Homo sapiens: one gene and its partner. The protein of the gene in region 2 interacts with the protein of the main gene of each other region in a pairwise test. Each region holds a gene or a part of one and is shown on either strand. Other genes may lie near its edges.

Region 1 (5,851 bases), on a different chromosome or scaffold from region 2:
TGAGAATCCCAGAAACTCCTGCTTAAAGAGGAGGAAAATATCTAAAGCCCAACCAAAATTAGTGTGGAGATCCCACAATCTGGGCATTGCAAAGCCCATTACCAGAAGCAATGACAATGCACATCCTAGACAATGCTTTACTAATAAATAGCAATATTAACAGCACATTTGGACAGAAGAATAAAGAGTTTATTAAAATAAAATCTTTTTCACTTCCTATCTCTTTTGGAAAGAAATACAAAAACTATAAATTATATCTATAATGCAGTTTGGATCACTCATTGATCCAATGGCTTCAGATATCTGAATTATAAAATCCATGCCTTCCCTTCCCAGAGTTATAGATCCAGATTGATCCAGTTATAGATTATTCATTGATCCAAACTGCAGTTTGACAGAACTAACATACAACCCAGTTTTTGAGGGCTGGAAAGTAAGGAAGACCTGGTGATCAATAATATTAGAATACTTCTCAAAGGAAGAAATTAACAGATGACCTTACTAAAGAATATGCATTTCTCAAATGAGTTTTACCAGTCACCACATTAGTCAGTAGAAACCAGATCTACAGAATGGCTGATAACAAGATGAATGGAACCACCTTCTAGGTGGAAAATAGATTGGATGGCAGAATCTGGATCTATAACTCTGGGAAGGGGAGGTATGGATTCTATAATTCAGATATCTGAAGCCATTGGATCCACAGCCCAGTGAGGAGCAGCTCCTGGATCCACAGCTCAGGGAGCAGCAGCTATTGGATCCAAAACCCCGAGACCCAACATGCATAGTCAGGCAAGAATTGCAGAGCATGTGAGTCCTGGGGTAGTAGCAGGAGGTGTGGCAGGGGCTGGACTCAACACACAATGTCTGACAGCTGTTGGGCCTCCAGCAGGTCTCCTGACAGCCCCTATAGAGAGAGGAACCCAGCTGGCAGGTGCTGGGAGAGCAGAGGTCAGTGCTGTAGACCAGGTTGCTGGGGTAGGAAGAGCCACAGGAGGAGCCTGGGTAGTGCAAGTAACCCCCGTGGGAGCAGGAGGAGAAGTTTCTAGAGCAACAGTTGTAGGACATGTTGACGGGAAGATGTGAGTTCAGCTGAGTGTACCTGGGAAGATTCTGAGTTTTAACGTGGCATCCTGGACAGTGTCATTTATATCCTCTCAGCAATAGGTGTGGTGCACAGCAGAGTCATCCCTCACATTTTTGTGCTCCCTCATTTACATATGTGTAGCTCAGCAATCTTGCCTGTAATTGCATTTGAATACTTTTCCACATGTTGTATTTATGCGTGCTATAATTTTGGTGTTATAGCACAAAGCCAATGAACTGCACTTATGCCAGAAATGCTATGACTGTTTCGTATTAATATTTATTTTATTATGTCTAGGAAAGCACCTCCTTTTCCTCCTAGCATAATTTTCATGTGTCTTGTTATTGGCTGTTATGGGCAATAATTTTCCCTAAACAGTGAGAAATGAGATAAAGTTACATGTCTTTTTTGTCAATGGATTAGAGACACAACTTTGGCCTTAATGAGAAACCTGCTGAAAACTAAACCTACATGTCACCATCCTTTCTCATTCCACAAAAGTTTCCTTCATCTATTATGTACTGTTACTCACTGTGTCTCACATCCAGTGTAGAGGGAAAAGTATGAGCCAAGACAAATTGAATAACATTGATGCCTATGACCAGAAGGAAACCTGGACAATTATTTGGAGACATGGTGACAGCAAGGGATGGAACTGAGACAATCACAAATGAAAAACAATTCTGGGGCCTTATGAAGAGAATTAAAGTGTTAAATAAACACACACCATTGAAATGACAGAAAAAAATAAATGAATTTTAGATTCAATGCATCTAATATGAGGCCCATGGTCCTAAGAGATTCTCATTCATATGTGTGGCAGCCTGGAGAATTCTCATCTCGGATCTTAAATTACAGGAGGCTTAAATAACCAGTGGTCCTACCTGCTGTGTTCTAAAAGTTAACACTGCATTTTTGGGGAAGGCTTGCTTTCTCTGGGCTGCTCCCAAGCAAAGACTGAGCACAGTGGGATATAGGAATTCCTGGAAGACAATTGACGGCCAGCTTTGACTCAGGGTTTCCTCAACGGCCTTAAAGAACTACTGTCTCCTGCATAGGTCTCAAGCACTTCTTTCTCTTTCTCCTTCACTTGGGCCAGACCTATGTCCAAATCTTACAACTCTCCCAGCCTCTCTCAGGGGAGACTCTGGAAAGAGAAAAAATGCAGAAAATCTGTAAATATTTAATCTTGTTTATACTTTTTAAAAAGTGATACTGTTTGGATTTGTGTCCCTGCCCAAATCTCAGGCCAAATTGTAATCCCCAGTGTTGGGGAAGGCCTGGTGGGAGATGATTGGATCATGGGGGTGGATTTCCCCCTTGCTGTTCTCGTGCTAGTGAGTTAGCTCTCATGAGATCTGGTTGTTTAAAAATGTGTAGCACTTCCCCCTTCACTCTTTCTACTGCTTCCCTTGTAGGACTGCCTGCTTCTCCTTCATTTTCTGCCATGATTGTAAGTTCCCTGAAGCCTCCCCAGCCGTGCTTCGTGTACAGCCTGCAGAACTGTGAGTCAATTAAACCTCTTCTCTTTATAAATTACCCAGTCACAGGTAGTAGTTTATAGCAGTGTGAGAATAGACTAATACAAAAAGTAAACCAATTTTTTGAAGGATAGCAAAAAATTTAAACTGAACATTTTATCTTGAGTATGCCAATCAGGGTAAACAAAAAAAAAATTATTTCAGTTGTTCAATGATTTAGAGAAACAATAAACAAACTTTTGAGTTTAGTTTTGGAGCTTATGTTCAGACTGTCTCCAGGTAATATCTGCTAAAACTCATTTTTTCAGCCATCTCCACCTTAGTTAGACTAGATCTACACCATTCTCCTATTATTTCACGTGTGAGTTGATGTCTTTTATCAAGATTGGTAAATTCCCAACTGTACTCTCTTCAAATATTGCTTCTGCCCCATCCTCTCATCTTTCTTTTGCTTAGATTCCAATTATAAGCAAGGTACACTTTTTAACTACATTACATATGGCTTATACTCTTTTTTCTATTTTCAATCTTTATATAGAAGTATTGGCTTTTGCTTATTGAGGTTGTAACCTGGATGGTTAGTGAAAGCAAGATTTTCCAGCATGTTAGTGACAAGTTGCCTGGTTATTTTGAAAAGAGAAGCAGGTAGGTGCCAAACGTTGTAATTTTCAACTATGGATGAGATTCTGTTGAAAACATATCTCAAATATCCAAAGCCATTATTCATAGCCCAGTGAAGAGAATCATCTGTCAAAAGATCAGAAGCCTTTTGATGTATATCCCTGAGCCATATATTTTATGTGAAAGATCTCAATTTTTAATTGTTGATAAATAATTCAGTCAAAAAAAGAAACAACAATGATGAGGCTCCATATTAAACAGAACAAATAATATGATCTCCAAGATGAAGTGAGTCCAAAGTTGTGGCATTTACAAGTTCTTCTTAAACTTCTATCAAATTAATGTGGACAAAGTTTTAGAGATTTAGAGGCAGAGAGAAGGGAAGAACACCTCTTTTCACAATAACTGGTTCAGAGAAGGATTTTTGAATAAGGAGCCTGGATTAACTGAAGACAAATTCACTAAATCCCTTAGTTTTGCCTGAATAAATTCATGCTCTCCATTTAACTCATAAGTTTTGTATTCAAGATTATTTTAAAGAGTTACATTTGAAACAAAAGAAAATGGGGAAGGAATAGTTTCCAAACCTACTTACTAAGGTACAAGGTTAGGGGAAATCAACTGCCATTGAAAAATAGAAAGTAACTCACTGAATAGATATTTGAATTGGCCATATTTGCTTCTTTCTTCATTCTTCCTTCTGGAAGGCCTATATTAAGTTACTTTTCAATATTGCCATACATTTTAATTGAGAAAATTTAATCGAGAAAATGTCTAACATTATTGTTGTAAGTTTATTATATTTTATTATAAAATAAAATGTCATCAACCATGACAGTACACTTTCTTTGGTCCTGAATATAATTTAACTACTTGTATTTCAACATAGAATATTTTGTGAATGAACTTACAAAGTGGCTATCCTCAAAGAATACGACAAAGCTGTCCAATTTTTATTTTTCAACATGGAATCTATAATTCAGCAGAGGCAAACAAACACATGAACAAAACATAAAATATAACAAGTAAAAAAAAGAAAAAAGATAAAATCAAACTTAAGCACAGAAAAAAGAAAGAAAAATAGAGGGAAAGAAAGTCAGAGGAAGAGAGAGAGAAAATAAGAGAGAAACATTCATATACCATGCAGAGGAAAAGAGGACTGGGGAACAAAGAAACTTCACATTTTCACAGGAAAATGTAGGATGGTACCTGGTTCTACAAGTGGCAAAAAGACACTGAAAGCCAGTAATATGGAAAGCTAGAGCCATTCTAAGAAGGTAGAAGTCCTGTATAATTACAAAAGTAGATGATAAATATATCAAAGTTCATAAGATTTGCTAATTTTGAAAATTTTTGCTCATAAAGACATTGAGACAAGACACATGACAGCTGGAATGCAATAGGAAAAAAAATTCTGAAATTCCTGAGCTTTCTCTTTGTTTCTCTTTCACTTGTTTCCTCCCTTCAGCAGACAAGCATTCGGGCTCTTTGGCTGAAGAGACATGACCTCAAATTGATCTTCTCTGTGACTGTGTTTCAATCGAGCTTCTTTTTGTTATCTCGTCTTTAAATAAATGGCAAGGTTTCTTTCAATTTCTAGCCATTTCTTTCTATCTCTTTGCTTTGCCTGTTCTTGATCTTTCTTCACTGGATATGAGACAGACTTTATAACTGTAGTACTTAATGTATTAATTTACTCTTACCGCCCTAAAAAATCACCACAAAGTAATTTTGGAGTATAGCAATCAATGGTGACAAGATGGATCATTTTCACAAAGGTTCTCATCCAGGTGGAAATTGCACCAGAAAGAAACTAACGTTATCTCATTCCCCACTCTTAAGAGGAAAACATCTACTAGCAAAGCCAGATGTGAATACACAGGAAAAGAGGCAGTTAGCATGTGCCAAAGAAATAGGAAGAGCTTTCCTTGTCATGATGAGCTAGACATTAATATAAAACAGTCATAGCATTTCTGACATAAGTACAGTTCATTGGCTTTGTGCTATAACACGAAAATTATAGCACCCATAAATACAATACATGGAAAACTATTCAAATGCAATTACAGACAAGATTACGCAGTTACACATATGTAAATGAGGGATCACAAATATGTAAAGGATGACCCTGTTGGGCACCACACCTATTGCTGAGAGGATATAAATGCCCTTGTCCAGGATGCGACATTAAAACTCAGAATCTTCTTAGGTACACTCAGCTGAACTCCCATCTCTCATCAGCATGTCCTACAACTGCTGCTCTAGAAACTTCTCCTCCCGCTCCTTTGGGGGCTACCTGTACTACCCAGGCTCCTACCCCAGCAGCCTGGTCTACAGCACTGCCCTCTGCTCTCCCAGCACCTGCCAGCTGCGTTCCTCTCTCTACAGGGACTGTCAGAAGACCTGCTGGGAGCCCGCCAGCTGCCAGAAATCCTGCTACCGCCCCAGGACCTCCATCCTCTGCTGTCCCTGTCAGACGACTTGCTCTGGATCTCTAGGCTTTCGGTCCAGCAGCTGTCGCTCCCAGGGCTATGGATCTAGGTGCTGCTACTCGCTGGGAAATGGATCCAGTGGCTTCAGATTCCTGAAATATGGAGGCTGTGGTTTTCCTTCCCTGAGTTACGGATCCAGATTCTGCTACCCAAACTACTTGGCTTCTGGA
Region 2 (7,035 bases):
ATTTTTGTGAGGCAAGGCCAAGGCAGATGACTTGAGGTCAAGAGTTCGAGAACAGCCTGGTTTAGTTGAAACCGCGTCTCAACTAAAAAAATACAAAAATTAGCCAGGCATGGTGGCGTGCGCCTGTAATCCCAGCTACTTGGGAGGCTGAGGCAGGAGAATTGATTGAACCCGGGAGGTGGAGGTTACAGTGAGCTGAGGTCGCACCACTGCACTCCAGCCTGGGCAACAGAGTGACACTCCGTCTCAAGAAAAAAGAAAAATACTGTGAGGCAAAACAAATCATTCATGGTTTGTCAATTTATATTTATTTTACAAAGAACAGTAAATGTTCCATCTGGCAGTACTAAAATGCCTCGTACTTACCAGTTACTCAAAGGTTATTCTACCTAAACTGAGAGCAAGCTGGCCATATGAGTAAACTGAAAAATAGAACAATGTTACCTAAGGCCAGGTTTATAGACAAGCTTGCCTTCATCTTGAACTCACTGGCAATCTGAGAAACCCAATTATTTTTTTTTGAGATGGAATCTCACTCTTGTTGCCCAGGCTGGAGTGCAGTGGCAGGATCTCGGCTCACTGCAACCTCCGCCTCCCGGGTTCAAGTGATTCTCCTGCCTCAGCCTCCCCAGTAGCTGGGATTACAGGCGCCTGCCACCATGCCTGGCTAATTTTTGTATTTTTAGTAGAGATGGGGTTTTGCCATGTTAGCCAGGCAGGTCTTGAACTCCTGGCCTCAGGTGATCCGCCCGCCTCGTCCTCCCAAAGTGCTGGGATTACAGGCGTGAGCCACTGCGCCCGGCCGAAACTCAATTCTTGAAAGCAGCTTTTTGCATTCTCTCAACTCAAGACTGTCCATTGTAAGTACTGATGAAAAGTGATTGCCTCCTTACAAAAGGAAATTTACTTGCCCCAGGCTGGATTTAAATTTTAATTTTTTTAAAGATAGGGTCTTGCTCAGTCTTTCAGGCTGGAGTGCGGTGGCATGATCATAACTCACTACAGCCTCAAACTCCTGGGCTAAAGTGATCTTCCTGCCTCAGCCTCCCAAATAGCTAGGACCGCAGGTGTGCACAACCACACTCAGCTAATTAAAAAAAATTTGTTTGTAGAGACAGGAGTCTTGCTATGTTGCCCAGGCTGGTCTTGAACTCCTGACTTCAAGGAGTCCTTCTTGCCTCAGCCTCCCAAAGTGCTGGGATTACAGGCATGAGCCACCATGTCCAGCCAGATTTCTTGTTTTTATTTATTTATTTATTTATTTATTTTGAGACAAAGTCTCACTCTTTTGCCCAGGCTGGAGTGCAGTGGTGCGATCTCAGCTCACTGCAACCTCTGCCTCCTGGGTTCAAGCGATTCTTGTGCCTCAGCCTCCCAAGCAGCTGGGATTACAGGCACGCGCTACCATGCCTGGCTAATTTTTCTTTTTCTTTTTTTGAAATGGAGTCTCGATCAGTCTCCCAGGCTGGAATGCAATGGTGTAATCTCGGCTCACTGCAACCTCCGCCTCCCAGGTTCAAGCAACTCTCCTGCCACAGCCTCCTCAGTGCTGGGATTGCAGGTGCACGCCACCACACCCTGCTAAGTTTTGTATTTTTAGTAGAGATGGGGTTTCACCATGTTGGCCAGGCTGGTCTCCAACTCGTGACCTCAGGTGATCCGCCCACCTCAGCCTCCCAAAGTGCTGGGATTACAGGCATGAGCCACTGTGCCCAGCCAAAGTTGAATGTTTTTGCTAAATTTTAGGGCTCTTATAACTCTTTGTATATTTGAAAAGCTGATGGCCAGCAATTTCCAAAATTTTGCACTTTTAGATTTGATATTTCCAATATCTTTAAATGTTCTCATTCTACCATTTGAGTCATAATTAAAAGCATTTTAAAAAGTAAGATTTGTGGCTGGGCGCGGTGGCTCATGCCTGTAATCCTAGCACGTTGGGAGGCCGAGGTGGGTGGATCATGTGAGGTCAGGAGTTTGAGACTGGCCTGGACAACATGGTGAAACCCCGTCTCTGCTAAAAATACAAAAAAATTTGGTGGGTGTGGTGGCGGGCACCTGTAATCCCAGCTACTCAGGAGGCTGAGGCACAAGAATCTCTTGAACTGGGGAGGTGGAAGTTGCAGTGAGCCAAGGTCATGTCACTGCACTCTAGCCTGGGCAACAGAGGGAGACTGTATTTTAAAAAAAAAAAAAAGTAAGCTTTGCCCCAACAGTTTATAGAATATGTTACCAATTTTGTAATATACGTTGTGTATGTGTGTATGTATACACATACATACATCATATATATACACATCATATATATATATATTTAGATAGAGACTTATTCTGTTGCCCAGGTTGGAGTGCAGTGGCACCATCTTGGCTCACCGCAAGCTCCGCCTCATGTGTTCAAGTGATTCTCCTGCCTCAGCCTCCCAAGTAGCTGGGACTATAGGTGTGTGCCACAACACCTGGCTAATTTTTTTTGTATGTTTAGTAGAGATGGGGTTTCACCATGTTGGCCAGGCTGTTCTTGAATTCCTGACCTCTCGTGATCCACCCAGCTCGGCCTCCCAAAGTGTTGGGATTACAGGCGTGAGCCATATATTTATTTATATTATCATAGTTTATCCATGGAAGGACAGATAGGAAACCAGTAACTGCTTCCAGGGAAAAGAACTAGCTAGCTGGGGAACACAGATGAAAAGACTTATTGCTACTTAACCTCTTGTGACTTTTCAATTTTAAACCATGTGAATATACTACCTGATCAAAAATTTAGTTAATTAAAATTATTTTTTAAAACCTCCCCTTAAAAAGGCATTTTACCTTAATTTTATTTTTAAGATTTAACTTCTTTCCTTGAAAAAGCTTTGACTTTTTAAGGTTTTTTAGGTTTCTAGGTAACATTGTTGTATTTTTCACCATTTATTTATATGGCCAGCTTGCTCTCAGTTTAGGTAGAATAACCTTTGAGTAACCTGGTAAATAAGCATTTTAGTACTGCCAGATGGAACATTTACTGTTCTTTGTAAAATAAATACAAATTGACAAACCATGAATGATTTGTTTTGCCTCAGCAAATTAAATATTACCAACAATTTTTTCAGCTCAAATTTGATCACTGGAAGAAGGATTATATACAAGAACACTTACGACAACCATTTTTGGAAGAATATTTTTGTCTCTTTAAAGATTAGATAGTGCGGCCACGTGCGGTGGCTCATGCCTGTAATCCCAGCACTTTGGGAGGCCGAGGCGGGTGGATCATGAGGTCAGGAGTTCGAGACCAGTCTGGCTAGCATGGTGAAACCCCATGTCTACTAAAAATAGAAAAAATTAGCCCAGCATGGTGGCACATGCATGTAATCCCAGCTACTCGGGAGGCTGAGGCAGGAGAATTGCTTGAACCCAGGAGGCGGAGGTCGCAGTGAGCCGAGATTGCACCACTGCACTCCAGCCTGGGTGGCAGAGCAAGACTCTGTCTCAAAAAAAAAAAAAAAAAGATCAGATAGTGCTTGGGTCTTCTGAATATAACTCTCTTGGTGGAATGCCCGTTTCGTTATATTGTAAGTGTTTGCCATTGGGTGAAATTAGCTTTTACTGGGGATTATAAATTCAGAGTGGACCTAATGATGGGACCGTTTGCATGGTCACAGAATTTTAGCCTAAGAGAGTGTTGAGGTACCAACAGCAGAGGGCTACTGATGGAATTTCCAGTGAATTTCAGAGTTTACCCTCATCTAAAGGATGGCACCCCTAGAATTGGAATCCTTACTGAAGTGTCTCTGGATTCCTGATTACAAGTTCTAAATATTGATACACTTACTGAAACATGAACATTGAGATCAGAGTCCATGAGGTGAAATTTTATGTTGATTTAGAGAAGTTTAACATGTTCCAAGTCTGGCTCAGTGGTGTATGCCTGTAGTTCCAGCTACTTAGGAGGCTGAGGTGGGGGGGTTGCTTGAGCCCAGGAGTTCCAGGCTGCAATGAGCTATGATCGTGCTTGTGAATAGCTACTGCACTCTAGCTTGGGCAACATAGCAAGATCCCATCTCCAAAAATGTAAAAACTTTTTAAAAAATTCCATAAAACAAATCTCTTATTCCTTGCCCCTGATTTTACTTTTTGAATGGAGGGTATAGCATGGCAGGGAGGGATGAGCGAGCAGTGGAGCTGAGCAACAGTATATCTGTGAATGGGAGGGCCATAACGCTCAGAGCGAGGCAGCAACTGAGAAACGTGGGGGAGGAGGACCTGAGGTTTGTGTGAAGCCTTTCCAGAAAGGATGACACTTAGATGGAGTTTTGAAGGATGAGTAGAAGACCAGCAAGGAGGAAAGGAAGTTTTAGGAAAAAGTAGGTGGCATCTATAAAGGTATAGATATACGGAGATTCACTAGTTGAACTGGAGGCAGTTTGGTATGGCTGGCACTTTGGCACAGAGAAGGGTAATTTTAGGCAGGGAAGAGATGGTGGAAAGGAAGATCACTTTGAAAGTTTGTAGGAGGCCGGGCGCAATGGCTCTTGCCTGTAATCCCAGCACTTTGGGAGGCCGAGGTGGGTGGATCACTTGAGGCCAGGAGTTCAAGACCAGCCTGGCCAACATGGCAAAACCCCATCTCTACTAAAAATACAAAAATTAGCTGGGCATGGTGGTGGGCACCTATAATCCCAGCTACTCGGGAGGCTGAGGCAGGAGAATTGCTTGAATCTGGGAGGCGGAGGTAGTAGTGAGCCAAGCTCGTGCCACTGCACTCCAACCTGGGCGACAGAGTGAGACTTTGTCTCTAAATAAATAAGTAAGAAAGTTTATAGGAGACAGGCAAACCACTTGACAGCTGTTAAGATCGTCCAGACCTAAAATGAGGGACTGGACTAGGGGAAGTCCTTGTATGGATGAAGAGGAGGAGATAGATTTGAAAGATATTTAGGGGGTGGAATTGACAGCATTTTGGAGATATGGGGTGAAGAACAGAAAAGACAAGGATTTGAAGGCATTTGGATGAATGAAATTGCATAACTCAGAGAACAATTGAGGAGGAACAGCTTCCGAAAAGAAAATGAGTTCAGTTTGGGACACTGACTTTAAGGTGTTTATAGGACATACAGCAGGAGATATCTGATAGGCATTTGGAGTTGTCAGTTTTGTTGGCACTGGTGTGTAGGTACTAATGAGGGCTTGAAGGTCAGGTTTTTATCTTACTCATCTTTCTCCTGCCCAGCATTAATCACAATACCTTGTATTTAGGAAGTGTATAGTGTGAGAGTGAATAGCCTGTGTTCCTTATGAGACATGATCTGGAATGTTGGGGCAGTAATTTTCCCTCTCAAGACCTGTGTTTCCCTTTCTATAAAGTGATGGAGTTGAACTAGATCAGTGGTTCTCAACAACTGATTTTGCAACAACCTACTATGTTGGGCTCATCTGTGAGTTATGGCAAGTAATTTTTAATAATAAAGAGCTGATATTTCCTCACCTTTTAAACAAGAGCTGATTTATATCACTCCTTCTTAATGGCATTCCAGTGTGTTTTCTTGAGTGTGAGAGGATGGGGTGGTGTTACAGTTAGTTTGCTGGAGTTTCTTCTTCTTTTTTTTTTTTTGAGATGGAGTCTCGCTCTGTCACCCAGGCTGGAGTGTGGTGGTGCGATCTCAGCTCACTGCAAGCTCCGCCTCCTGGGTTCACGCCATTCTTCTGCCTCAACCTCCCGAGTAGCTGGGACTACAGGTACCCGCCACCACGCCCAGCTAATTTTTTTTTTTGTATTTTTTAGTAGAGACGGGGTTTCACCACGTTAGCCAGGATGGTCTTGATCTCCTGACCTCGTGATCTGCCCACCTCGGCCTCCCAAAGTGCTGGGATTACAGGCGTAAGCCACCACTCCCAGCCTTGGAGTTTCTTAACTCTGGATATACCAATGGGAGAGTCACACATAAGTGGAGGTGCAAAAAAAGATTAAGAATCACTGTACTAAATAGTGGTTAAGGACTTGAAACTGAAAATTTCTATTTCTGATTTAGAGAAGTTTAAAGTTTAGTTATATCTAGGAGTTATTCTGATTATAAAGTTTTTATTTTGGCAATTTCAGGAACTCTATTTTAAGAACCTCTCAAAACGAAACAAGCAAATCATGGAGAAGAATGGAAATAACCGAAAGCTGCGGGTTTGTGTTGCTACTTGTAACCGTGCAGATTATTCTAAACTTGCCCCGATCATGTTTGGCATTAAAACCGAACCTGAGTTCTTTGAACTTGATGTTGTGGTACTTGGCTCTCACCTGATAGATGACTATGGGTAAGATGAAAGCATTTTCTTATTCTTCATTGCAACAGTGTGCTAGAAGGAGCTTGGGTTTTGTAGCCATATGGGCCCAGCTTCAAATTCCTGTTCTGCTGCTTAGTTTTTATGTGGCCTTAGAGTAGTCACTTAGCATCTCTGAGCCTCAGTTTCCTCATTATATAATGTAGTGAAAACTTATATTGTAAATTATTGTGAGGAATGGAGATCATGATATAGAGCATCCATCACAATGATGCCGCTTAGTAGATGATTGATAAATGGTAGCTATAAATAATATTACTGTTTGTTATTAGTTGTTACATTCAAACAAATGCCACTTATAAATACATATTGTATGAGTATAATAATGTGATTCCATGTAAACTGTTTTGTGAGCTGTAATGGCAATCTTTAAAACTGGTTTATAGGCCAACAGCATATAAAGTAGTAGATATGGAACAAGATTTTAAAAATCTAATCTGCAAGGTAAAGTAGAGAGTTACATTACTGTCACCATTGACATTTATTTTGCTGACATTAGGTTTGTTATTAATCACAGGCTACATTTAAAAAGTGAAAGTTGGGCCGGGCACGGTGGCACATGCCTATAATCCCAGCACTCTGGGGGGCTGAGGTGGGTGGATCACCTGAGGTCAGGAATTTGAGACCAGCCTGGCCAACATGGTGAAACCCTATCTCTACGAAAAATACAAAAAAAAAAAAAATTAGCCAGTTGTGGTGGCGCATGCCCGTAGTCCTAGCTACTCG

What was found. Proteins that work in one complex are often made in the same cells at the same time.
Region 1: the proteins of GNE (region 2) and KRTAP13-3 interact in binary tests that used the Homo sapiens proteins (3 or more experiments, as listed by UniProt).

What each region holds. Positions count from the first base shown.
Region 1 is NC_000021.9:30,424,845-30,430,695, forward strand, and holds KRTAP13-3 (keratin-associated protein 13-3), read right to left. Parts: upstream 1,083-5,851; 5' UTR 1,069-1,082; coding exon 550-1,068; 3' UTR 536-549; downstream 1-535. Other genes in the region: KRTAP13-4 (keratin-associated protein 13-4), read left to right, coding at 5,432-5,851. UniProt on the Homo sapiens protein: In the hair cortex, hair keratin intermediate filaments are embedded in an interfilamentous matrix, consisting of hair keratin-associated proteins (KRTAP), which are essential for the formation of a rigid and resistant hair shaft through their extensive disulfide bond cross-linking with abundant cysteine residues of hair keratins.
Region 2 is NC_000009.12:36,248,439-36,255,473, reverse strand, and holds part of GNE (bifunctional UDP-N-acetylglucosamine 2-epimerase/N-acetylmannosamine kinase), read left to right. Parts: intron 1-6,076; coding exon of another isoform or gene 6,077-6,118; coding exon 6,119-6,282; intron 6,283-7,035. UniProt on the Homo sapiens protein: Bifunctional enzyme that possesses both UDP-N-acetylglucosamine 2-epimerase and N-acetylmannosamine kinase activities, and serves as the initiator of the biosynthetic pathway leading to the production of N-acetylneuraminic acid (NeuAc), a critical precursor in the synthesis of sialic acids.